Homo sapiens: one gene and its partner. Changing the gene in region 1 together with any one later gene gives a genetic interaction. Each region holds a gene or a part of one and is shown on either strand. Other genes may lie near its edges. The genes, in order: RAB18 and EIPR1.

What was found.
Region 2: changes in RAB18 (region 1) and EIPR1 are lethal when combined (synthetic lethality), as found in Homo sapiens cells (one study listed by BioGRID).

The regions. Positions count from the first base shown.
Region 1 is NC_000010.11:27,521,225-27,528,517, forward strand, and holds part of RAB18 (ras-related protein Rab-18), read left to right. Parts: intron 1-5,603; coding exon 5,604-5,665; intron 5,666-7,293. UniProt on the Homo sapiens protein: The small GTPases Rab are key regulators of intracellular membrane trafficking, from the formation of transport vesicles to their fusion with membranes.
Region 2 is NC_000002.12:3,188,288-3,192,929, reverse strand, and holds the end of EIPR1 (EARP and GARP complex-interacting protein 1), read left to right. Parts: intron 1-348; coding exon 349-516; intron 517-3,421; coding exon 3,422-3,596; 3' UTR 3,597-3,960; downstream 3,961-4,642. UniProt on the Homo sapiens protein: Acts as a component of endosomal retrieval machinery that is involved in protein transport from early endosomes to either recycling endosomes or the trans-Golgi network.

The DNA of each region.
Region 1 (7,293 bases):
GAATGTTTCATGTATACTTGAAAAAAATTTGTTGTTATACGGAGTATTCTGTTGGCTCTAATTGGCCTTCAAACCCTTTGTTTTCTGTTGATAATATATCTCAGTACACTATTCATAATTGGAAGTGGTGTATTAAAATCTCCGACTGTTTATCCTGTGAAAAAGACACTTTCACATGCATGTTTATAGCAGCACAATTCACAATTGCAAAAATATGGAACCAGCCCAAATGCCCATCAATCAATGAGTAGATAAAATGTGGCATATGCATACCATGGAATACCACTCAGCCATAAAAAGGAACAAAATAATGACATTTGCAGCAAACTGGCTGGAACTGGAGATCATTATTCTAAGTGAAGTAACTCAGGAATGGAAAACCAAACATTGTATGTTCTCATTTATAAGTGATAGCTAAGCTATGAAGACACAAAGGCATAAGAATGATACAGTGGAACTTGGGGACTCGGGGAAGGGTGGGAGAGGGATGAGGGATTTAAAAAACTACACATTGGGTACAGTGCACACTGCCCGGTTGATGGGTGCACCAAAATCTCGGAAATTACCCTAAAGAACTTATCCATGTAACCACATACCACCTCTTCCTAAAAACCTATTGAAATAAAAAAAAAATAGGATAAAGTATATGGGAGGATTTAAAAAAAAAACAAGAGGGTGATGTGCTCTGGTTCTGCAGGGAGAGGAAGGGGAGACGCATGGAAGCTCCGTGTTTGGGACCCTCCCAGACCTCATCCTTATGTGTTTCTCTTTTTGGTTGGTCCTGATATTGTATCCTTTGTAATGAAACTGTAATTGTAAAAATCTAAATAAAATGTAATTTGTGGGGAAAAAAAAGACGTTTTGGAATTCAGTCAGGCAATAAAAATAATCAGTATTTTCAGTGGAGGGCTTGTGTTTAGGAAAATAAATAAATAAATAAATAGAATCTCTGATGGTTGTAACACTATTTTTCCATTTAATTCTATCAAGTGTTTGCTTTGTATATATTGGACTTCTGTTCTGTGGTGTATATGTTTATAATTGTTGTATCTTCTTGAGAATTGGCCTTTTTATCAAAATATTTTGTTTTAGTCTCCTAACAGTTTTTGACTTAAAGTCTATTTTGTCTGATTTTAGAATAATTACCTTTGCTATCTTTTGGTTACTATTTGTATGGAATATCTTTTCCTGTCCTTTCACTCTCAACCTATATTTGTTTCTAGACCAAAAGTGAATCTCTGATAGAAAGCATGTAGTTGAATTTTTAAAAAGTATTCTGCCAATCTTTTGATAGGAGAGTTTATTCTATTTGCATTTAATATACCAATAAGGAAGGACTTCTGCCATTTTGCTATTTATTTCCTTAAAGAGTTTTTGTTCCTGAATTCTTACCATTACTGCCTTCTTATCTGTTTAGGGATTTTTCATAATAATATGCTTTGACTCTCTTCACATTTCCTTTTTTATCTATATTCTATATATATTTTCTTTGTGATCTATTTCAGTAAATTCTGGTAGCTTTTAATCTTTCAAGGAAATTGTCCATTTTTATCTGAATTGTCAAATTTATTGGCATAAACTTGTTCATAACATTCTGTCATTCCTTTAACTTCTGTACAATCTATAAATGGTGTGATTTTTTTCATCCTTTGTAATGATTTTTTTTGTCTTCTTTTTCCTGATCAATTTGACTAGAAGTTTATCAGTTTTATTGGTTTTCTTTTAGAAGCAACTTTTGGATTCATTGATTTTTGTTGTTGTTTTTCTGTTTTTAATTTCTGGTTTGAACTTTATTTTCTTTCTTCTACTTCTTCGGATTTAATTTGCTGCTTTTTCTATTGTCTTAGTTTAGAAGCCTAGGTCATTGATTTTAGATCACTTGTCTTTTCTAATATGGGTGTTTAGTGCTATAAATGTTCCTATTAAGTATTGCTTAAGTGGCATCATACAAATTTTGATGTTGTTTTTCTTTTTGTTTAAAATATTTAATTTAAAATACTTAGAACAATTTCATTATGATGTCTCCGAGTTTTTCTTCTTCTTTTTTTTTTTTTTTTTTTTTTTGCTAGGGGCTTATTGAGCTTTTTTGATCTGTGGATTTATATTTTTCATCAAATTTGAAATTTTTCAGCCATTATTTCTCAGATATATTTTCCCCCCTTCTCTCTTCTTTTTCCTCAACTCCATTGTTTGCATAATAGGCTGCTTGAAGTTGTCCCACAGATGATTGATGGTCTCTCATTTTCTTTGAACCTTTTCTTTCTGCTTCCTTTTGGGTAGTTTCTGTTGCTGTGTCATCACATTCACTGATGTTTTCTTCTGCAGCGCCTAATTTGCTGTTAATCCCATCCAGTGTATTTTTCATCTCAGACATTGCCATTTTTACCTTTTTTTTTTTTTTTTTTTGAGACAGGGTCTTGCTCTGTTATCCAGGCTGGGCTGCAGTAGCACAACCACGGCACATTTCAGCCTCGACCTTTCAGGCTCGATCCATCCTTGTACCTCAGCCTCCTGAGAAGCTGGGACTACAGGCGCAAGCCACCATGCCTGGCTAATTTTAAAAGTTTATTTTTGGCTGGGTGCGGTGGCTCACGCCTATAATCGCAGCACTTTGGGAGGCCGAGGCGGGCGGATCACGAGGTCAGGAGATTGAGACCATACTGGCTAACACGGTGAAACCTCGTCTTTACTAAAAATACAAAAAATTAGCCGGGCGTGGTGGCAGGCGCCTGTAGTCCCAGCAGCTTGGGAGGCTGAGGCAGCAGAATGGCATGAACCTGGGAAGCAGAGCTTGCAGTGAGCCAAGATCACTGCCACTGCACTCCAGCCTGGCCAACAGAGCAAGACTCCGTCTCAAAAAAAAAATAAAAATAAAAATTTATTTTTGTCAAGACGAAGTCTCGCTGTTTTGCTGGGGCTGGTCTTAAACTCCTGGCCTCAAGCGATCCTCCCACCTTAGCCTCTCAAAGTGTTGGAATTACAGGCGTGAGCCACTGTGCCCAGCCCATTTTCATCTTTAGAAAGTTCTGTTTGATCCTTTTTTATGTCACTCATGTCTACTTTTTGAACATGTGGTGTACAGTTGTAACATCTGTGTCAGTTCTGAGTCAGTTTCTATTGATTGATTTTTCTCCTCTTCAACAAGATGTGTGCTTCTGCTTCCATTAATATCTTCTGGTCTCCCATTCACATATATCTACTGTTGAGTTCATATTTTCTTTGGCCTTTTTCATGAAGGTTATTTTAGTTAAAACTAGATAATATAGTTAATGGAGCCTTTGAAATAAGCAGTAAGTGCAACATGAAAATTTACCAGTGTGCCTAAAAAAAGATTCTTGCAAAGAAACTGAATTAAAGATCATATTAAAAATGCAAACACAAATGAACAAGGAAAAGCTGAGATGACAGTTCTTCTGTTTCTGTTGTGAGCTCCATGTTATCCACATGAAGAGATTGAAGACACAGTTTAATCAAATTGGGTAAGAAACTGGCAAAATCAAATCTCTCAAAAAGACTCCCACTGCTGCTACCAATTAAGATAAATTATCAGCCACTTAACAAAAGAGAAGCATGATGAAGAAGCAGTTTTAGCATGTGAGATCTGAAGAGCTCAATTGCTGCATGTGAGATTCACCAGAGGAACCTAGGGAAGATGACTGGGGACTTTAGGGGTCTGGATTTAGATTAGGTGCCCCTTCAGGCTACCTGTGTCTGTTGGCTTTGATGGCAGGACGACAGTGTTCAGTGTCTCCTGTGGATGGGTATTGGTAAGTTTCAGATATAATATGTCAAAAGCATAACTTAGAGACATTGTTAGTTATCCACATGCAAATTATTCTTATGTCAGAGACAGTCATTAGACTGTTCACAACAAACTTGCAGAACCAGGAAATAATAATAGAGAAAGAGGAGTTGGGGTATGGGAAGAAAACACATACATTCTGGAAGCGGTGGGTTTCTTTTCTTGGGTAAACAAATTAGCTCATAGGAAAGATGCTTGTCTGCTCTTGAACATGTATCTGGGATTATTAAGGAAAAAAATTAGTTCTTTATATACTCCCTGAAAAACCTTGAGAATTTAACTGTAGAGTGTGCATGACAGAGGCTATCTCTGTGTAGTGTCTGCCAGTGGCTGTCATTTAGTACCTGCACCAAGTCAGAACCATTTTCCTCCTCTGAATTTTCTCAGGGTTTGTGCTTTGCTTTTTTTTTTTTAAAGCAATAGGAAGAAAATGTAGATAATTTCATGTTGTTTATGTAGATGGTTCCACTTTTAAAATGGCATAGTAACTTCTTTATTTAGACCTGGTTAATACAAGATTATTTAGCATGTGGGATTTTTTGTTTGTTTGGCTGTGAAGAAATTTTATATTTAGGTTTTTGTTGGGCTATGTAATCAACACTGTCCTTTTACTAATGGTTGCCCATCATTCTAGGCTTTATCAACTCCTTTATCACCCCAGCTCAAAACACCAAACTTAAAAATATATATATTTGGTATACAGAAAGACCTGGCATAATGCACATTTTGAATGTGCATTTTTATTACTGAATTTGTATATGTAATGGATCACCACAAGTCTTCCAAGAATTACAAATATATTTCCATATTGGTGACAGGTGTTCTATTAAGCATTTAGTATGTGAGGGTGCTGTTCATCTTAGTTGGGGCTGTTCTGAATTAATTGTGACAAGCTAATAAGATATTTTGAAAGTTTCTTTCCAAGCTTCTTGAGCTAATGTTTTCCCTCTGGCCAGTGGGGTAGACTGAACTCTTGAAAGACATGTGGGCAGTTGCTGTTCATTTAAGCCAGATGGCATGTGTCAACTCCTTTTCCTGGAAAGGGAGAGGTTTCTTTTTTGGCTGCTGTAATAAAGCCTTGTGGACTTCTTATGAAACTCTTTTCTTTACATAAATTAGTACTTATAGAAGCTTTTCATAGAACTTTGGGCACTCCTCTTTCACTTATGAAGATTCTTAGATGGTTGTATATAAATGTTTTCATGTATAAATTGTTTTATTGAAATTGTGCTGTAGCAAGTTATTGATTAGGTTATTACATAAAAATAGTATTTTTTTAGGATAAAAATAAAGAGATTATATGACAAGGAGTGAGTGGCCCTTTAATATTTTTACCGGTTCCCCAAGCTGCTTACAGTCAAGATCTGAGTTAGTGGTTGGCTGGCAGTGGACAGCACTCTTAACAGTAGCATGTGGATGCTTAGGGAGCCCCTGGAAGCTGCCATGACCCACAGTCAGCCATGGATAGTCTTCTTTATGTGAGCATTGTAATTGCAGCTCTTGACTTTTAACACGCATAGTGAGTTATCACCTTAAATTGAATTTCGTTTTTCCTTTTTGGAAGAATAGAAGGTAGGTGAGTGAGTGAATTCTACAAGCATTTGATTTTCATTTATCCTGATTAAATCCTAAGATCCTGGATTTTAATGACACTTTTTATCTCCACATCCAGAATTCTAAGAAGTTGGGGTGTGAATTGGGCATTTGATAATAGTGACTTTTCTGTTTTCTGGTTTTCTTGGTAATGGATTTTAAAAGTCTGTTTTACTGGGAGACTTATCAAAATTTTCATTTCTTTAAGGTGTTGACTTTAAGGTGAAAACAATTTCAGTGGATGGAAATAAGGCTAAACTTGCAATATGGGTAAGAGTTTTTAAAATGTATTTTTAAAATATTAAACTTTACTTTTTAAGGATGCAGAAATTGATTTGTGTAGTGTTCTAGAGGTGGTGAATGAACAATTTGTATTAAATAACTTTTGGGAGATTTGATACTGATTAAAGGATAAACAGTAATGTCTTATAATTGGGTAATTAGGCAGCTATGTTTTGTTTAAATTTTCACAATGCATAATTCTTTATGAATATTTCAAAACAGAACAGAATATTAAAAAATCATCTCATCTGCCAAAGAGAATCATAATTGGATATGTTTCTTTGAAGTTTTAAAAAGACCATCTAGACTGAACTAACACTAAAGACAATTTTTAAGGGGAGGAGGAATGACGTGATATTTAGGAAAAAATTTTATTTTTCTTGTTTGTTAGTATAGATATTTATAAAATTTGAGGTTTCAAACTTTGGGCTTATTTTTAATGCCTCGTTTTTCCTTACTGGCTTCTTTTCGTTTTCCTGTCAATCCAACCATTCTGATCCCCGTTACTGTACTAGCTAGACCGCTCATGCTAGTGTCAAATAAGGTAGCATTAACTGTCAAAAATATCCAAGATGCTTAGTGTCTATGTTTGTCTCTCTCTGTGTCTCCCTTTCATCAGTCTATTTACCCACCCACATACCGATCTATCTATATCTGTCTATCTAAATATGATCGGTTATATATATATATGTATATTCTAAATATATACTGTTTTATATATCTATTTTTCACATAGACTGTGATAATTATACATATATGTTTGTAATATAAGAAATCATATTAGAACTGATCAGTCATCAAATCGAGACTTATTTCCACATGGTGGTTAAATGGTAAATGCTGTTTGTACATCAGTCACAGATTGAAAACAGCAAGTGTTCATGCATTGTATGATGTCATATTTCTTGGCATTCTCTGAATGGCACACTGTTTCTAATACACATTTATCCCCAAATAACAAATAATTGTGTAAGTGTGTTTAATGTTTTTATGTCAGTTTTTCCTAACATACAATACTTTAAATTTGTTAACCTGTTTGCCCCTTTCCCCCAAATATGTTTAATATCAATCAGAACGGTAATGTCTAACAGAAAACAATTTGGAAAATGTTGGACTAGAGTATGGTAAAATGTGTTGAACGATATAAGAATGTTGGCTTTTTCCATACTAAAGTGGGGGCCTGATTTCCATATGCTTTTCATGGTTAATTTATTATCCCTTTCCGGCCTTGCTGCTGCTTTGTGAAATCCGTAGATTAGAGTAGTATCTGAGACTTGCTGGTTGCAGTGAGATTTTTCTCTCATAGTTTCGTTTTGTTTTAAATTTATTTTCTAGTTCCTGCCTAATAAAAAGGCTGGCAGGTATTATTGAAGAGACATTTTTACCATAGGCCTATAAACATTTTTTAAAGAAGAGAGGTTTTCCCCCTGGCTGTAAGAATAATACAGGGTCATTCTAAAAGGGATAATTGAGACAATAAGAAGAGCAGAGAAGAACATCTATAAAAGTATACCACTGAATACATTTTAGTGAGCATTCTTTAAAATATCAAGGGATATGTATACATACCACTATACATACCAGTATGTGAGTTTTCCAAAACAAAGGGATTATAT
Region 2 (4,642 bases), on another chromosome or scaffold:
TATTACAGGATATCGCTAATCCACATGTTGCTTCTGGGACAGTATTTTTTTTTTTTTTTCGAATTTTAGAAAGCTTGTCTGAAATGTTGCGTGATAAGCCTTCTCCTCCTGTAGGTTTCAGCCAACATTTAGTCTTCCCTGTCTGTCTCTTGGGACTTAAGAGAAACCTGCAGTAAACCCAACCTCAGCGGAAAACTGCCTTATGTCAGGCCCTGTGACTGGGGGCCGATTGCCTGGCAGTGCCTAACGTGAGCCCCAGCCTAGTGGGGCCCTCAGAGCCGGTGTGATCCATTGTTGGTGTTGCCTGCGGGTGACAGTTCATTTCAGCAGCTGCCTTGCCCTTTGCAGGGTGTGGAACGTCCGCTACAACCACTCTCATGACCAGCTGGTCCTCACGGGCAGCAGTGACAGCAGAGTCATCCTTTCCAACATGGTGTCCATCTCGTCGGAGCCCTTCGGCCACTTGGTAGACGACGATGACATCAGTGACCAGGAGGACCACCGTTCTGAAGAGAAGTAAGGGCACGCACTGCAGAGTGGCTCACGCTGTACCAGAGCCTCCTGTCTGCACAGCCATCTCCCGAGCCAGGCTGTGTATGTAGAAAGTTTCCAGGAGTGCATTTGGGGGACACTCTCCTTACCCACTGCAGCTGTGGGGACTCACAGTTCCAGGGGTGCCGTCATTAGCAGCCCAGGTGGGAGGCACTGCAGGTGCGTTAGGGTTAGGTGCGGTTTTAAAATAGATCTATTTGTGTTTGTATTCTTATTGAATGCCATCTGTAAGATTTAAAAGACTCACTGGTCTTCAAACTTGAGCATGAATAATAATAGAACGAATATATCCCAATCCTCACAGCACTCCCTGTAAGAGACGCATCACAGTCAGTGTCTTCACTGGCGTGGATTTGAGCGTGTTGGGGTCGGGTTGTTGGCCATCAGCTCACGGGCCTTCCACTGGCTGGTAGCAGGGCGGAGACTCCAGGCCAACCTTCCCAGTCTCAAACCCGGGTCCTACTTCACTTCTAGATACTCTACAAAATGTGGTCAACCATGATGTGGGTTTTCTAGTCACACCATCATGGTTCTGGATTTTCCCAAAGCTTTTTCCTATGCACCTTGATTTCTGATCCTAGGTGAGATGGGAGATCGCTAAGGGCAGCCTCTTCATGCCCGCCTCTGGTCAGCGGTGCAGTGCCAGGGCCCCTGTGTCCTTGAGCAGTCCACCTTTAGAAGTGGCAGCCGCTTCCTGGGGGGTGACTAGATGCAATTCAGTTGCAACCGCAGAGATTCTTGCCCCAGGTTCCAGAGGAAGGAGGTTCTGGAATAAAACCTTGTGAAGTTGGACAGAGCCCTTAGATACGATGGGGTCTGTCACTCTGTTTTGGGATCCTTTGCACTGTTTTTTGTCTGAATTCTCCCCCTACCCACCTGAGCTTGGTCTAAAATTCCTCTGTGAGAAGACCTCTTTCTTCAGACCCTCTCTGCAGTGGCGATGGGACCATCTGATTGTCTCTGTCTTCGGACCCTCTCTGCAGTGGGGATGGGCCCATCTGATTGTCTCTGTCTTCAGACCCTCTCTGCAGTGGCGATGGGCCCATCTGATTGTCTCTGTCTTCGGACCCTCTCTGCAGTGGCGATGGGCCCATCTGATTGTCTCTGTCTTCAGACCCTCTCTGCAGTGGCGATGGGCCCATCTGATTGTCTCTGTCTTCAGACCCTCTCTGCAGTGGCGATGGGCCCATCTGATTGTCTCTGTCTTTGGACCCTTTCTGCAGTGGCGATGGGCCCATCTGTTTGTCTCTTGACTCTGTTGCCTTTGTTTTGTTTTTGAGACAAACAAAAACAAACAAAAAAGTCACCCAAGCTGGTGTGCAGTGGCACGATCATGGCTCACTGCAGCCTTGACCTCCTGGGCTCAGGTGATCCTCTCACCTCAGCCTCTCAAGTAGCTGAGACAACAGGCCCATGGCACCATGTCTGGCTAACTTTTTGTAGAGACAGAGTTTTGCCATGTTGCCCAAGCTGGTCTCAAACTCCTGAGCTCAAGTGATCTGCCCACTTCAGCCTCCCAAAGTGCTAGGATTACAGGCATGAGCCAGACTCTGTTGTTTTTCTGTTCAAACCTTAGAAACTCGGTCTGCCATAGAATAGTATTTAAGCACACGCACGGTAGCATCTGCCCAGTGGTCTCTCGGTGCCTGTGGGCCTGGCTCCCTTTACCGTCCTCTCTGCCAGTGGCCCAGGGAGTCTGCACTTCCTCACCATGTCTGTCCCTGTTAGGGGAGGAGCCTGATGGGCCCGTTGGTCGGAAGACTGCTGGCGTTGTCTTCTGGGCGGCAATGTCATGGGAGCAAGATAGGAAGGGAGGAGGTGATCGGGGCTACGCAGACTTCTTAGGACATCCCTCAGTCCTGATGTCCTGCTGCATTCAGGAAACCATGATTCCTCCTAAGGATTTGCACCTGGCATTTGTCCCACAACAGCAGTTGACCACTGGCAGGTCCACTTTGTGGGAAGCCAGCTTCCCAGAGACCATGCGAGTTCTGGAGGGTCCGTCTTGCTGGGGGGGTGAAGCATTTTCCTACAAAGAAATGCAAAAGCAGTTAGAATGCGGTACACAAATTATGTGGGAATTTTTTTGTGAAATGGGAAGTAAAGTGCCAGAGAAGCCTGTGTCCACCGGAAAGTGGCCGCTGTGAGCCGGGCAGGGCCCCCTCCCCATGCACGCTGTGCTGAGGAAGTGGTGCTTCTTGTGTGAGGATCCCCTGGTCAGGGCTCCCAGTGAGGGTAACTCACAGTCAAGGGAGGCGAGGTGGGAAACACCCTGGGGGAGGCCAGGCAGGTCACGCCTCTGCTGCTCCCACAGGGCCAGGGCGTCTTCCTCTTGGTGTCCTGGGGGATCCTCAGCCCAGCCCCACTCCCATCCTAGCAAGGCTCCTTGTGCCCCAGCCTCTGACTCCTACACAGCCAGGAGCTGGACCCGCTGCTTCCCAGGGTCCTTTCTGCTCAAGCAATAGGGGCGTTTACATCCTGTGTTACCCAGACACGGTGACTACTTCCCCCAGTCTTTCCCCTGAGCTAAAGGAAGCCCTTGGAAGACCTCCAACAAAATATCAACCCAGGCACCCGGGGGCCAAGGACAGAAGAAACCAAGACACCATGTGCCAATGTCGCCGATTTCCATAAACCTTTTGAGAAATGCCCACTCCTCACAGTGACAGTGAGGGTTTCTGGGCTTCTGCAGGGACCACCCCACCGTCCTCGGTGTGGGCTCCTCTAATTCTTCCCATCCCACAGCGGAGAAAGCTGAGGCCCCAGTACCTCCCGTGTCTCCCGATGTCAGCGCTCGCGTCCTCCCTGCCCCTCTCCTGCCCGCCCCGCCGGAGCTGCTGCGCTCACGTCTGCCTCTGTTGCATTGCAGGAGCAAGGAGCCCCTGCAGGACAACGTGATCGCCACCTACGAGGAGCACGAGGACAGCGTCTATGCCGTGGACTGGTCCTCGGCTGACCCGTGGCTGTTTGCCTCCCTGAGCTATGACGGGAGGCTCGTGATCAACAGGGTGCCCAGGGCCCTGAAGTACCACATCCTGCTATGACTCCCGGGCCTGGGTTATCCAGGTCCCATTGAGTGGTTTTCCTCTTGGCAGATTCTCAAACAGTCGCAGCTCTTTGGAGGTGACTCGTGTTCCAGGTGGATCCCTCTCTGGGAGAGCCGCTGTTCCCTTCCTGTAGCAGCAGCATTTATGAATGGGGTGAATGGGGCTATTGTCGACGGCACAGCTAATGCCCGAACCCAGCCCCTGTCGGCAGAGACAGAGCCCCACATTATTATGTGAATAACAATGTTTTCTGTTTTAAGGGTGTCAGGAGTTTCGCTTTTTAAAAAAATGTCTGTTCCTGCAATAGTAACTCTTCTTTCTCTTGAGAGTAAAAAATGAAATAAAATAAATCCACGCTGCACAGGTGCTCGGCTCATTCTTTCAGGAGCTCTGCCCTGTGACCCCATCTCCTGGGTCTTTGTCCATTTTCTCTTTCCTGACCCAGGGAAAATGCAGATGGACAGACGTGTGCTGTCTACGCCGCCCTAGCATGGAACTCCCGGGAGCCATGCTGGCTGCTGGTGGGCACCTGGCTCGCGCCCTGGGCTGAGCTGGTGTGATGCATTTTCACTGCTGTAGACGCAGGCTCTGCCCGCCCTGGGCCTCCCCTGGTCTCTGCAGCCCATCCTGTGCTGTGTCCTGCCCACCTTGTGAGCCGGGCAGGGCCTCCTCCCCACGCGCACGCACTGGTGGCCTTGGAGGTGCCGTCCTCCCTCACCTCGGAGCTTGGGGTTGGGCTCCCGCGTCTCAGTTGTCGGGGACCCCTCACAGGCTCCTACACTCATCAGTGCTTATCCTTAGGAATCCTCAAACACTGACCTCGCAGCCTCTGTTCGTGGTTCCTTTGGGTGTGCGGGGTCTGTTCTCTGTGTCTGGTGCGTGTTCCCACTGGAGAAGCCACCTGGGCCCTGGACTCTGGGCTCCATCTCCCTTAGGCCTCCACCTGGCCAGGTGTCCCCGCAGGGGCCACTTCTGCGCTCTGCTGCCCCGATCACCTCATCTGTAATGATGGGGAAGGATGGGCTGAGCTCACAGGCCCATCA